2 separate regions of the Homo sapiens genome follow, and region 2 is linked to region 1. Evidence: fine-mapped expression QTL. A gene starts in region 1. The other region holds a variant in brackets. All regions are shown on one strand. Distances are from middle to middle. Region 1 holds the start of CRAT (carnitine O-acetyltransferase). Region 2 has its middle 23 kb from the start of IER5L.

What was found. PIP is the estimated chance that this variant, and not a neighbour inherited with it, causes the effect. A credible set is the group of variants that fine-mapping cannot tell apart.
Region 2: its variant is the best candidate, but not a certain one, in a credible set for the expression of CRAT in esophagus muscle (GTEx, PIP 0.50).

Annotation. Positions count from the first base shown.
Region 1 is chr9:129,108,660-129,113,659 of GRCh38, forward strand. CRAT (carnitine O-acetyltransferase) reads right to left here and starts at 2,134. Exons shown (of 14, transcript NM_000755.5): 1 at 1,824-2,134. The coding sequence starts at 1,850. It overlaps PTPA (protein phosphatase 2 phosphatase activator), which reads left to right and starts at 2,756. Exons shown (of 10, transcript NM_178000.3): 1 at 2,756-2,972. The coding sequence starts at 2,942. RefSeq lists silencers at 1,890-2,329, 3,020-3,069 and enhancers at 2,740-3,019, 2,952-3,492.
Region 2 is chr9:129,152,979-129,158,491 of GRCh38, forward strand. No RefSeq gene overlaps it. Among named protein-coding and RNA genes, the nearest start is that of IER5L, 23 kb to the right of the region's middle. The variant C/G (reference allele first, on the strand shown) is at 2,457.

The sequences.
Region 1 (5,000 bases):
GAGAGAAAGAGAAAGTCCAGGAGGCCCTGGAGTGGGCAGAGACAGGAGGGCCCGAGGCTGCTCTTGCAGTGGGCAGGCGAGTGGCAGGAGCTCTGTTCCATACCTTCTCTCTCTGCTGCCCGTCCTCCTCCATGGCAGGACTGAGGTTCTGGGCCCTGTCTGTCTGCCTTGGCTGGATCTCTAAGCCTAACTGTGCTACAAAGTGAGTGAGCAGAACCTAGCCAGAGGCAGCCACTTGCCTGGGCTGGAAAGAGAAGACAAGAGCCAAGATTCAGCGGGAGGCAGGTGGCAGTGGCGATGGCTGTGGTGGAATCGGGGGTTGTGGCAGTGGCAGGGGAAGCTCCTGGACTCTAGAAGCTGCTCCACCCTCCCGAGCTCCCAGAAGTAGAGGAATGGGGAGCAGGTGAGAGGGCTAGTGGGGGGGCATTCCAGTAGAAGGGAACCTGGAAAGTTCTTTCCTTTCTTCTCTGCATGGGCTCAGTGCCAGGGAGTCAGGACAAAAGGTAATAAAAAATCCACCTGTCAGAATCTGCGAAGATCGTTTTGATGAGGGAAAACTTGGCTGGAGGACAGAGACTGCCTGGCCGCTGAGGTTACACCACAGCCCTGGGATCGGTCCTGAAATTAGGGTTGGTGCAAGGGAGCAGACACCAGGAAAAGGCCATCAGTGGATGGGACAGCCAGAAGCCCTGCCTATTTCCTGTTTCTCTCCAGGACTCCTGGGACCCATCTGAGCCATCCCTCTACGAACACTCATTTTTTCCTGAGCTGTGGCTCATTCAGCTAGGGTCCAAGAGCGGAGGACTTTTGGTATGAAAAATAAACCAAAGGACACTGGGATTGGGCTGGATTTGAATGAGCAGGTCCAGGGGACTCTGGGCAAGTCCCTCCTTGCCTCAGTTTCCCTGCAGGAAGGTAACCAGTCCAGTCGGATGGTCCTGGAGGATGATCTAGAGGCTGTTTGTGGGATGGATGCAGCTTGGGAGACAGTGACAAGGGTGCGGTGGAGGCTCAGGGTGTTGCAACACCTAAAAGAGCCTCTAGGCCTGAGCCTGGATGCACCCTCCGCCCTCTGGCCCCGTAGTGTGTGTCTGAGACAGAGTGAGACACCAGCAACATATGCTTGGATCAGGGACGGAAGGGACTGAAATTAGGCTAGCATCCGGGCTGCTCACCGGGGAGGACTGAGGGGTAGATATAGCCAGGGTGGGGAAGGGGGCTAGAGGGGAGGATATAGCCAGGGTGGGGAAGGGGGCTGGAGGGAAGGATACAGCCAGGGTGGGGAAGGGGGCTGGAGGGGAGGGAGACCATGGGGCTGCCACCTGCCAGTTCTGAGGCCTTTCTAGCTTGATGCCTCCGCGTGTTTCTCTGGCCACACACAATTCCCCAGGGACCGTCTGATAAACCAAAGGAGTGTGACCAACTGGACAGGGTCGGAGGAGTGGCTCTGGCCTAAGCGTGCGACGGGTGTGTCAATCGGAGAATAACTGGGAGAGTGAGCTAGGGTCTGGATGCTCCTGGTCTCTCTCCCCTACCGGCCTGTCTCTGGGTCTAAGGGTGGGGGTGCTAACTGAAGCCGGGGTCCCCCTTGTCTTTCCTGGGTCGTTGGAACTGAATGCTCCAGGACGTGGGTTTAATCCCGCTTCTGACCTTGCGCCCCAATCTCCTGCTCTGCCAAACCTGGGACGCCCGCCTGACCCCACCCCATCAGCTGGAGGCCGGGTCGAACAGCGGCCGCAGGACGCGGTCTCCGTTCCCGGACGCAACCGCACGGCCCGCCCAGGCCGTCCAGGGCCCTCAGGCCCGGGATCCGCCGCACTCACCACGGTCCTGGCAGCGAAGGCTAACATCTTCGCTGCCCGTCCGCGGACACGCAGTCCGCTCCGCCCCACACACCGGGCAAAGTCCGCGCCGCCGCCGCCGCGGCTGGGGTCGGTGGGTCCTTGCTAGAGCCTTCGGGCCAAGGTCGCTGAGTTACAGCCGCCAGCCGGTAGAGGCAGCCCCGCGCCCACCCTCTGGGCCGAGCGGGCTGCGGGAAGGCACCCGGGGAGGAGGACTCGCGAGGCGGGGCCTGGGCCGGTAGCGGGCCCCGGGCGGGCAACGGTGCCCGGGAGGTTGGCTGTGGGGCGGGGACGGGGCATCGATGGGGCGGAGTCTCCTTGAGGAGGGACAGGAGGGGCGGGGACGGAGGGGCGGGGCGTCGCCCGGTAGCGGGTCGCAGTAGGCTGGCTGCGAGTCGGGGGCGGGACCACGGCGGGCGGGGACAGAGGGGCAGGGCCGAGGGCGAGTCATTGAGACCTGTGGAGGAGGAAGGAGGAGGTCACCGTCCAGCTGTCTCTCCCCTGTCCCCACATGTCTTCTAAGCTGTTGGAGGTAGTGGTGTGCACCTTTCCAACTCCGTCTGGTGTCCTTGAGCCTAACTCTTAGAGTGATAGGAAAACACAACCATGTTGACCGGGGAATGTCCTCTAATATTCCTTGGGTTAGGGTCAGTACCACCCACAAAGATGACAGGTGGTACTCCGGGACAGGAGACTGTCCCGGAAAAACATGGCTGAGCACAACCCAAACTTGACGCCCCGCACAATCGTGGCAGTCGCGGCGCCCGACGTTCGGGCGGCCGTGAGCGGTCCTAGCGCTTGGCGGCCGTTGGCGCGCATGCGCCCCGCGCGCCCCGCACTGACATGGCCGTCGCCCGGTTCCGCGCGTCCGCCGCGCGCCGGCCGTTAATAGGCTTGCTCCCTGAGCGCCCCGCACCGACATGGCGGCCGTCTTCGCTGTGGTGACTTTAACTCTCGGTTTTCGGTTATAGCCGGCCGGCGCTCACTTGTCTTCAGGAAGCTCGGAGCCTTTGGTGGAGCCGGGGAGAGGAAGGGTGGGTGCAAGAGTGAAAGGCGAGAGGGGACTGCAAGCATCCGGGTCGGCTCCTGGCCGGAGCAAGATGGCTGAGGGCGAGCGGCAGCCGCCGCCAGGTAAGGCCGGCGGGGCCAGGCCGGGCCGGGGTCGGGTAGGGTGGGGGCGGTGCCAGGTGTGGGAGGCTCAGGAGGGCGAGAGTCATGACACGGAGGAACTGGAGGGGCAAAAGCTGAGGGGCCCCGAGGAGGGACTGAGTTGAATGGCCTTAGGGGAGAGGTGGGTGGTGGGGCGCCGCTGGGGAGGGAACCAGGGGCTGCAAAGGGGTGGTGATTGGGGCGCAACTCTGGGTTTTGTGGGAGTCCAGGCTGCCCGAATGCTGGGTGGGCAGCGCCGTGGTCATAAGGGGGCCTTTTGCATCTCTGGGCAGCGCGTGCTTAAGTAAGCTGCTGACTCGGTGGGGAAGCTGCCAGGGAGGGGGGCGAAAGTGATTCCGGAGGCTGCCGTCTTTATTAGTCGCTGCTTAGGGGATGGGGTGGTGCTCCGTGGGCCTGCGCCCGCCTCGCCTCCAGTTTCGGCCTCCGCGTCCTGCTCACCCCTCATCCTCCTACTCTCTGGTTCCAGTGCCTGAGAATTTATTGAGGGAAACTGCCCGTGGTGTCTAAATCCCTAATTTTAAAAGGCTGGTTGTGCAAGGAGGTTAGTCTCTCCGGCATCTCCTTCGGTAACTCTTATTTACCTTGTAGCCTCTTTTTAGTTCATCTTAAATAACTGGGATGGAGGTGCTACGGAAGGATCTTAGAGACCCTTTTTGTGCAGAAGGAGAAGGCTGTTTGCCGACCTACCTTGAACTAAGAAGGACTGGCCATAGATAACTTTTACATTCCCGACAGAGGCAAATAGGTTGGCCGACCAAACACAGCTAATGTTTTGAAAGCATTTGATATTCTTGCTATCCTGTCTCCAATGTTGGGGTCCCTGGGAAGGTCTCAGGAGGGAGAAATGTTGAAAATCAGAAAAGGCATCCCCTCCATGCCCCACAAAAGAGGTGAACAAAGAGCTGGGTTCCGTTTCTTAGGACATTCAAAACCAGACATTTATTTTGTACAAAACCTCTGGGTGTGTGCCCTTAGAACAAGGATGTCCAGGCCAGGCGCGGTGGCTCATGCCCGTAATCCCAGCACTTTGGGAGGCCGAGGCGGGCTGATCACCTGAGGTCGGGAGTTCGAGACCAGCCTGACCAACATGGAGAAACTCCGTCTCTTCTAAAAATACAAAATTAGCCGGGCGTGGTGACACACGCCCGTAATCCCAACTACTAGGGAGGATGAGGCAGGAGAATCGCTTGAACCTGGGAAGCAGAGGTTGCGGTGAGCTGAGATCGCGGCATTGCACTCCAGCCTGGACAACAAGAGTGAAACTCCGTCACCCCCCAAAAAAAAAACCGGGGTGTCCACTCTTTTGGCTTCTCTAAGCCACATTGGAAGCAGAATTGTCTTGGGTCACACATAAAATACACTAACACTAACGATGGCTGATGAGCTAAAAAAAAAGTCGCAAAAAAAAAAATCTCATAATGGTTTTGTGTTTCTTTTTTTTGAGACAGTGTCTCACTCTGTCCCCCAGGCTGAAGTGCAGTGGCATGGTCTCGGCTGACTGCACCCTCTGCCTCCCGGGTTCAAGCGATTCTCCTGCCTCAGCCTCCTGAGTAGCTGGGACTACAGGTGCGCCACCATGCCTGGCTAATTTTTGTATTTTTAATAGGGACAGGGTTTCACCATATTGGCCAGGCTGGTCTCGAACTCCTGACCTCGTGATCCTCCTGCCTCGGCCTTCCAAAGTGCTGGGATTACAGGCATGAGCCACCGTGCCTGGCCTATGTTTTAAGAAAGTTTACAAATTTGTGTCCGGCTACATTCAAAGCTGTCCTGGGCTGTGGGTTGAACAAGCTAGCCTTAGAAGTTCTGGTGATGACTCCGGGCACAGTGGCTCACACCTGTAATCCCAGCACTTTGGGAGGCCGACACAGGCGGATCACTTGAGGTCAGGAGTTCGAGACCAGCCATGGCCAACATGGCAAAACCCCGTCTGTATTCAAAATACAAAAATTAGCTGGGTGTGGTGGCACACGTCTGTAATCGCAGCTA
Region 2 (5,513 bases), 45 kb after region 1:
TGGCAGGGGCCCTCGTGCAGAGCATGATACAGACACAGGAGGGGGCAGGTCAGCCCTGGAGAATCCGTGGAGAAAGGAAGCTGGTGCCCCGCCTGGGGCAGGTGAGTGGAATGGGCAGGGAGACTGAGTGGCCACTGTTGCCCTGGTGCCAGGCAGCCAGCACCGGAGGTGGGTATGGGGCCTGTGAGAGGGCAGTTCTGAGTGCTGTGGAGCCAAGCAGAGGAGCAGTGGGCTGGAGAGAAAGGAGGGTGAGGTTGGCACAGTGGGGAGGAAGAAGGAGGCAGGTGGGCATGGGGGGCCCCTGGGGTACCTGAGTGCCACTGCAGGCGGAGGGCGGAGGGAGGGAGCTGAGGAGAGGACCAGAGAGGCCCAGGTCAGGGTTGAGCCGGGAGGATGGCTTGCTTTCATTCACTCAGCAAACACTGTCAGAGCCCTCTCTGTTCCAGTCTGGGGACAAGTGCTGGGGCGCTGCGGTGAACAAGACAGGCAGCACCGTCCCTCCTGGAGGATTTTCCCTCTTGGACTTATTCCAGCAGAACCTGGGAAACACTCTATATGTTCAGCAGTTGGGGATTGTTAGGGGGCTGGAGGGAGCAGTCATCCTATGGGCTGTCAGATGACGCGATTATCCATTTATTTGTCCAGAAAGATGCGGATAATCTGTTATTCGTGGGGAAGGCAGCTGCAAAGACTGCAGGTGAAGGACAATGCTTTTTTGTAAAAAAGCAGAAATCTGCATTCTTGATCCGTCCGTCTGTCTGTCCATCTACATGAACACAGGCCCAGGTAGTGATGAGCTTATCTCTGGGTGGTGGGGATATGAGGGTTTTTGGAAAATTCTTAATGCTTTTCCTGCTTCCAAAGATAGTTATGAAAATGCCAACATGGCCGGGCATGGTGGCTCGCCTGTAATCCCAGCACTTTGGGAGGCTGAGGCAGGCGGATCACGAGGTCAGGAGATTGAGACCATCCTGGCCAACATGGTGAAACCCCGTCTCTACTAAAATACAAAAAATCAGCCGGGTGTGGTGGCACACGCCTGTAATCCCAGCTACTCGGAAGGCTGAGGCAGGAGAATCGGTTGAATCCGGGAGGGGGAGGTTGCGGTGAGCCGAGATTACACTACGGCACTCCAGTCTGGGCAACAAAGCAAGACTCCGTCTCAAAAAAAAAAAAAAAAAAAAAAAAACCCTAACATTACTGAACCACAAAAGAAAAAGTAGTGGCGGGTCAGTTTTAACCTTGCTTTATGTTTTTCGTATTTGATTTTTAAATCTTTCTACCATATCCACATACTACTTTTGTAATAAGAAAAAAAAAGAAAGGAAACTGAATAAAAAGATCTCCCCGCTAACAAGCGCCGGAGGATGGTGCATCTTGGGCAGAGAGGAGGGGGCTTGTCCTTCTAGTCAGGAGGGAGAGGAAGGAGAGGGGCCTTGCTCACATCTGTTGGGATAAAGGAAGGGGAGGTGAGTTCTTGGTAGGTGCTTTGGCCCAGAGACCCCCTGAGAGGGAGTGGGCAGTCGGGGCTGGGGGATTCAGGGAGTGAGAGGTATTGGGGAAAAGTGTTTGAGAGTCCATGTGAGCTGGACCCAGGGAGAGGAGGCAGCCTAGATCCTGATTCCTCAGGGGGCCTTTGGACTGGGGAGAGTTGTGGCCAGCAGTTCCCTGGCGGGCATCTGCAGCCTTCCTGGTGACCTCTGGGACCCAGCTTCTGTTCTCAGGACCCCAGCACATGTGAGTTGGATCCAGAATTCAGTCCCAAAGTTGAGGTGCTCTTTCTCCTGCCTGGGCCCTGGATGGGGGGTTTGGTGGTTAAGAACCAAGGGACGAACGGTTCAATTTCTCTCAGTGCTTGTGATGCTGCTGGGAGTATTTTCCTGAATCCCAGTGAAGAGGCGAAGCCCCTGATGGGTCCAGCTTCATCCACCATCCTCCCCTGAGCAGGTGACATCAAGGGATACCTGGGACAACACCCAGGAGTAGACGGACCTGTGAGGATGGGGCTCAGAGCTGCGGCGATGAGACGTACTCCACAGTGGCTGGGGCTCTGGGAGGCTTCCTCTCCTGGCAGGGCAGCTGGCTGTATCCCCAGTTCTGGCCCCGAGGCCGGGCCTTTGCTGGCCTGTAGTGAGATCTCCCAGTCTGAGCCTGGACAGATTTCTTGACCCTTGTTATTTACATGAGACAAAGTTGGGGCTTTTCAAAAGGGACACTGCAAAGGCAGGCCGAGTGCAGCACCTCATCTCCAGGTAACTGGACCCAGCCCCGGGCAGGACAGGCAGGTGGGCGGGCTGCGGACGGAACAGCCTGCTCCTGCTCCCCACCTCTGCTTGGTGAGATTGGGCCTGGCCCTTGCTGGGCTGACGGACTGCGCACACCCTCTAGAGCCAGCTCCTGCCCTCTGCAAGGGGTGGGGAGCGTGGTGGCCAAGGTGTGCGTGGGCTCTGGAGTGG[C/G]TCTTGCATTTCCCTCTGTGTGACCTTGAGCCATGACTGAACCCCTCTGAGCCTCAGTTTCCTTACGTATAAACAAGGTAAGTAAACATGGCCTTACAGGGTGGATGTACCAGACACCGAACGGACACAGCCCAGGGCTTTGCTGGCACCGTCTCATTGAATCTCCGCAGGCCACCCTGCGAGGTGGGCATGTGGCAACCGAGCCATGGGGGAATTCCTTGGTGGTAAGTGGGTTTCAAACCTGGGCCATCAGGCTCCAGCGTGGACATTTCTTTCTTTCTTTCTTTCTTTTTTTTTTCTTTGAGACAAGAGTCTTGCTGTGTCATCCAGGCTGGAGTGCAGTGGTGCCATCTCTGCTCACTGCAACCCCCAACTCCTGGATTCAAGCGATTCTCCTGCTTTAGCCTCCCAAGTAGCCAAGATTACTGGTGTGCACCACCACACCCGGCTAATTTTGTATTTTTAGTAGAGACGGGGTTTCACCATGTTGGCCAGGCTGGTCTCGAACTCCTAACCTCAGGTGATCCACCCACCTTGGCCTCCCAAAGTGCTGGGATTACAGGCATGAGCCACTGTGCCCAGCTCAGTGTGGACATTTCTACCCACTGAGCCCAATAATGGCTGTGAATCTGTCCCACGAACGTTTACTGAGCACTTGCTCTGCCAGGCTCCAAGGAGACCCCAAGGACCATGGAGGAGGCAGATGCGGTTCCGTCCCTCATGGAGGTTTAAGGAGGACACGGGGCATGTGGGGAGCTGTGGGAATGTCGTGGACAGGGTGGAGAGCCTTCCTTGAAGGCAGGATGAGGGCTCCGGCAGCAAGGCTGGGAGGTGTGCTGGGTGTCTGGAGCTGGGGCGGTCGTTCCCTTGCTGGCTACTGGCCCCAGGCCTGGCTTCTGCCCGGACTGTGGTGGCCTGGCCATTCCTTCAGGAGTGGCTCCTGCCCTACTCCATGCAAATTCCTGGTCCCCATGTCTCAGTTGCCACTGCTGCTCCAGGCCCCAGCAGCTGTCTGCCCCCTGATGTCTGGGGGTTCCCGCAGCGAGCCTGGAGCTTGTGGCTCCTGCATGCGGCCTATGTGTCTGGCCCTGAGCTAAGTGCTTCGAAGCTTCTCTTGCCTCATCCTCACAATGGGCGCTGATGTCCTCATTTCACAGAAGGGTCTGGGGTCTCTTTCCCGCCAAAGCTCGTGCTCCTGCAGCCTCTCCACGGGGCCTGACCTGAGGGCTCGGGTGGCATGGGCTGCCGTGTGCTGCCTGTCCCCACTGTGGTGGCCTGAGAGCCCTCCTCCACTCCACTTCACTCTACCCCCTCCCCCTCCTCCTCCTCTTCCTCCTGCTCCTGCACCCATCTCTCCAGGACTGGCCCCAGACCCTGGGCTTCTCTGAGAGGCACCTCTTCCAAGGGCCCAGTTTCTTTTTGGAGGCAGGGCCGATTTGCACAAAGATGACGAAGACGCATGACAGCAATGACTCTCTGGCTGGTAGCGTGCCTCTTGGTGTGTGCAGATTGTGCTTTATGTGTCACCTCGTGGAGTCCCCACAGTGAGCCGAGAAGGTGGCATCACATTCCCAGTCAAGGGCTTTTGGTGGTGGGGCTCAGATCTTAGTGGCGTCCCAGGGCCTCCAGCTTGTCCAAGTGGGTTCAGGGTGGTGCCCAGGTTTGTCTGACACCAGGTCCTACAAAGGCCAGCATGGTGGGGTACCCGGAGCTGGGCAAGGGAAAGATTGGCTATGGCCACGTGGCTCCTTGTTCTCCCCAAGGCAGTCTGTCTCTGCGGACAGCCATCAGGCCCCAAATCCAGGCGTCATCCTTTTTATTTTTTGAGACAGGATCTTGCTCTGTCACCCAGGCTGGAGTGCAGTGGCTCGATTTCAGCTCACTGCAAACTTTGCCTCCCAGGTTCAAGTGATTCTCCTGGCTCAGCCTCCCTAGTAGCTAGGATTATAGGCCTGCACCACCACGCCTGGCTAATTTTGTATTTTTAGTAGAGACCGGGTTTCACCATGTTGGCCAGGCTGGTCTCCAACTCCTGGCCTCAAGTGATCCACCTGCCTCAGCATCCCAAAGTCCTGAGATTATAGGAGTGAGTCACCGTGCCTGGCCCAGGTGTTATCTTTTTTATTTTTATTTTTTGAGACAGAGTCTTGCTCTGTCGTCCAGGCTGGTGCAGTGGCACAATCATAGCTCACTGCAGCCTTGGCCTCGTTTACCCTCTATTGCTTGAGAGTTTACTCTCCTGGGTCCACACCTGGGACTACAGGTGTGCACCATTATGCCCAGCTAAATTTAAGAAACTTTTTTTCTGTAGAGACAGGGTTTCCCTATGTTGCCCAGGCTGGTCTCAAACTCCTGAGCACAAGTGATCCTCGTGCCTCGGCCTCTCAAAGTGCTGGGATTATTACAGGTATGAGCTACCATACCTGGTGCAGGTGTTATCCTGAATTCCTTTCTTTTCCTCTACCTCTCAAATCCAACCCATGAGCAGGTCCTATTGGGTCTCCCTCCAAATTGTAACCCAAATCTGCCCGCAGCCAGGGAGCACGGTCAGCTCTCCCAGGAGCGCTGGCCAGCAGCATCTCCTCTCTGCTCTCCTGACTCCACTCTGCCACTGTCCCTGGGCTCTACCCTGAGGTGCTTAAAGGTGATTCTACCCTGAGGTGCTTGAAGGTCACTCCCATCAGATCCCTACTTGAAGGGTGGCTCCTGACTGTGCACAGAAGGCCCCACGAGGTGATGAGCCACTGTGCCCCCGCCCCACTCGCCCACTCCCGTACTTCAGTCATGTTGCCCTCTCTCTGGTCCTCCAGAATGTCTTTTTTTTGTTTGTTTTTGAGACAGAGTCTCGCTCTGTCACCCAGGCTGGAGTGCAGTGGCGCGATCTCGGCTCACTGCAAGCTTCGCCTCCCGGGTTCACACCATTCTCCTGCCTCAGCCTCCCGAGTAGCTGGGACTACAGGCGTCCGCCACCACACCCGGCTAATTTTTTTGTATTTTTAGTAGAGACGGGGTTTCACCGTGTTAGCCAGGATGGTCTCGATCTCCTGACCTTGTGAT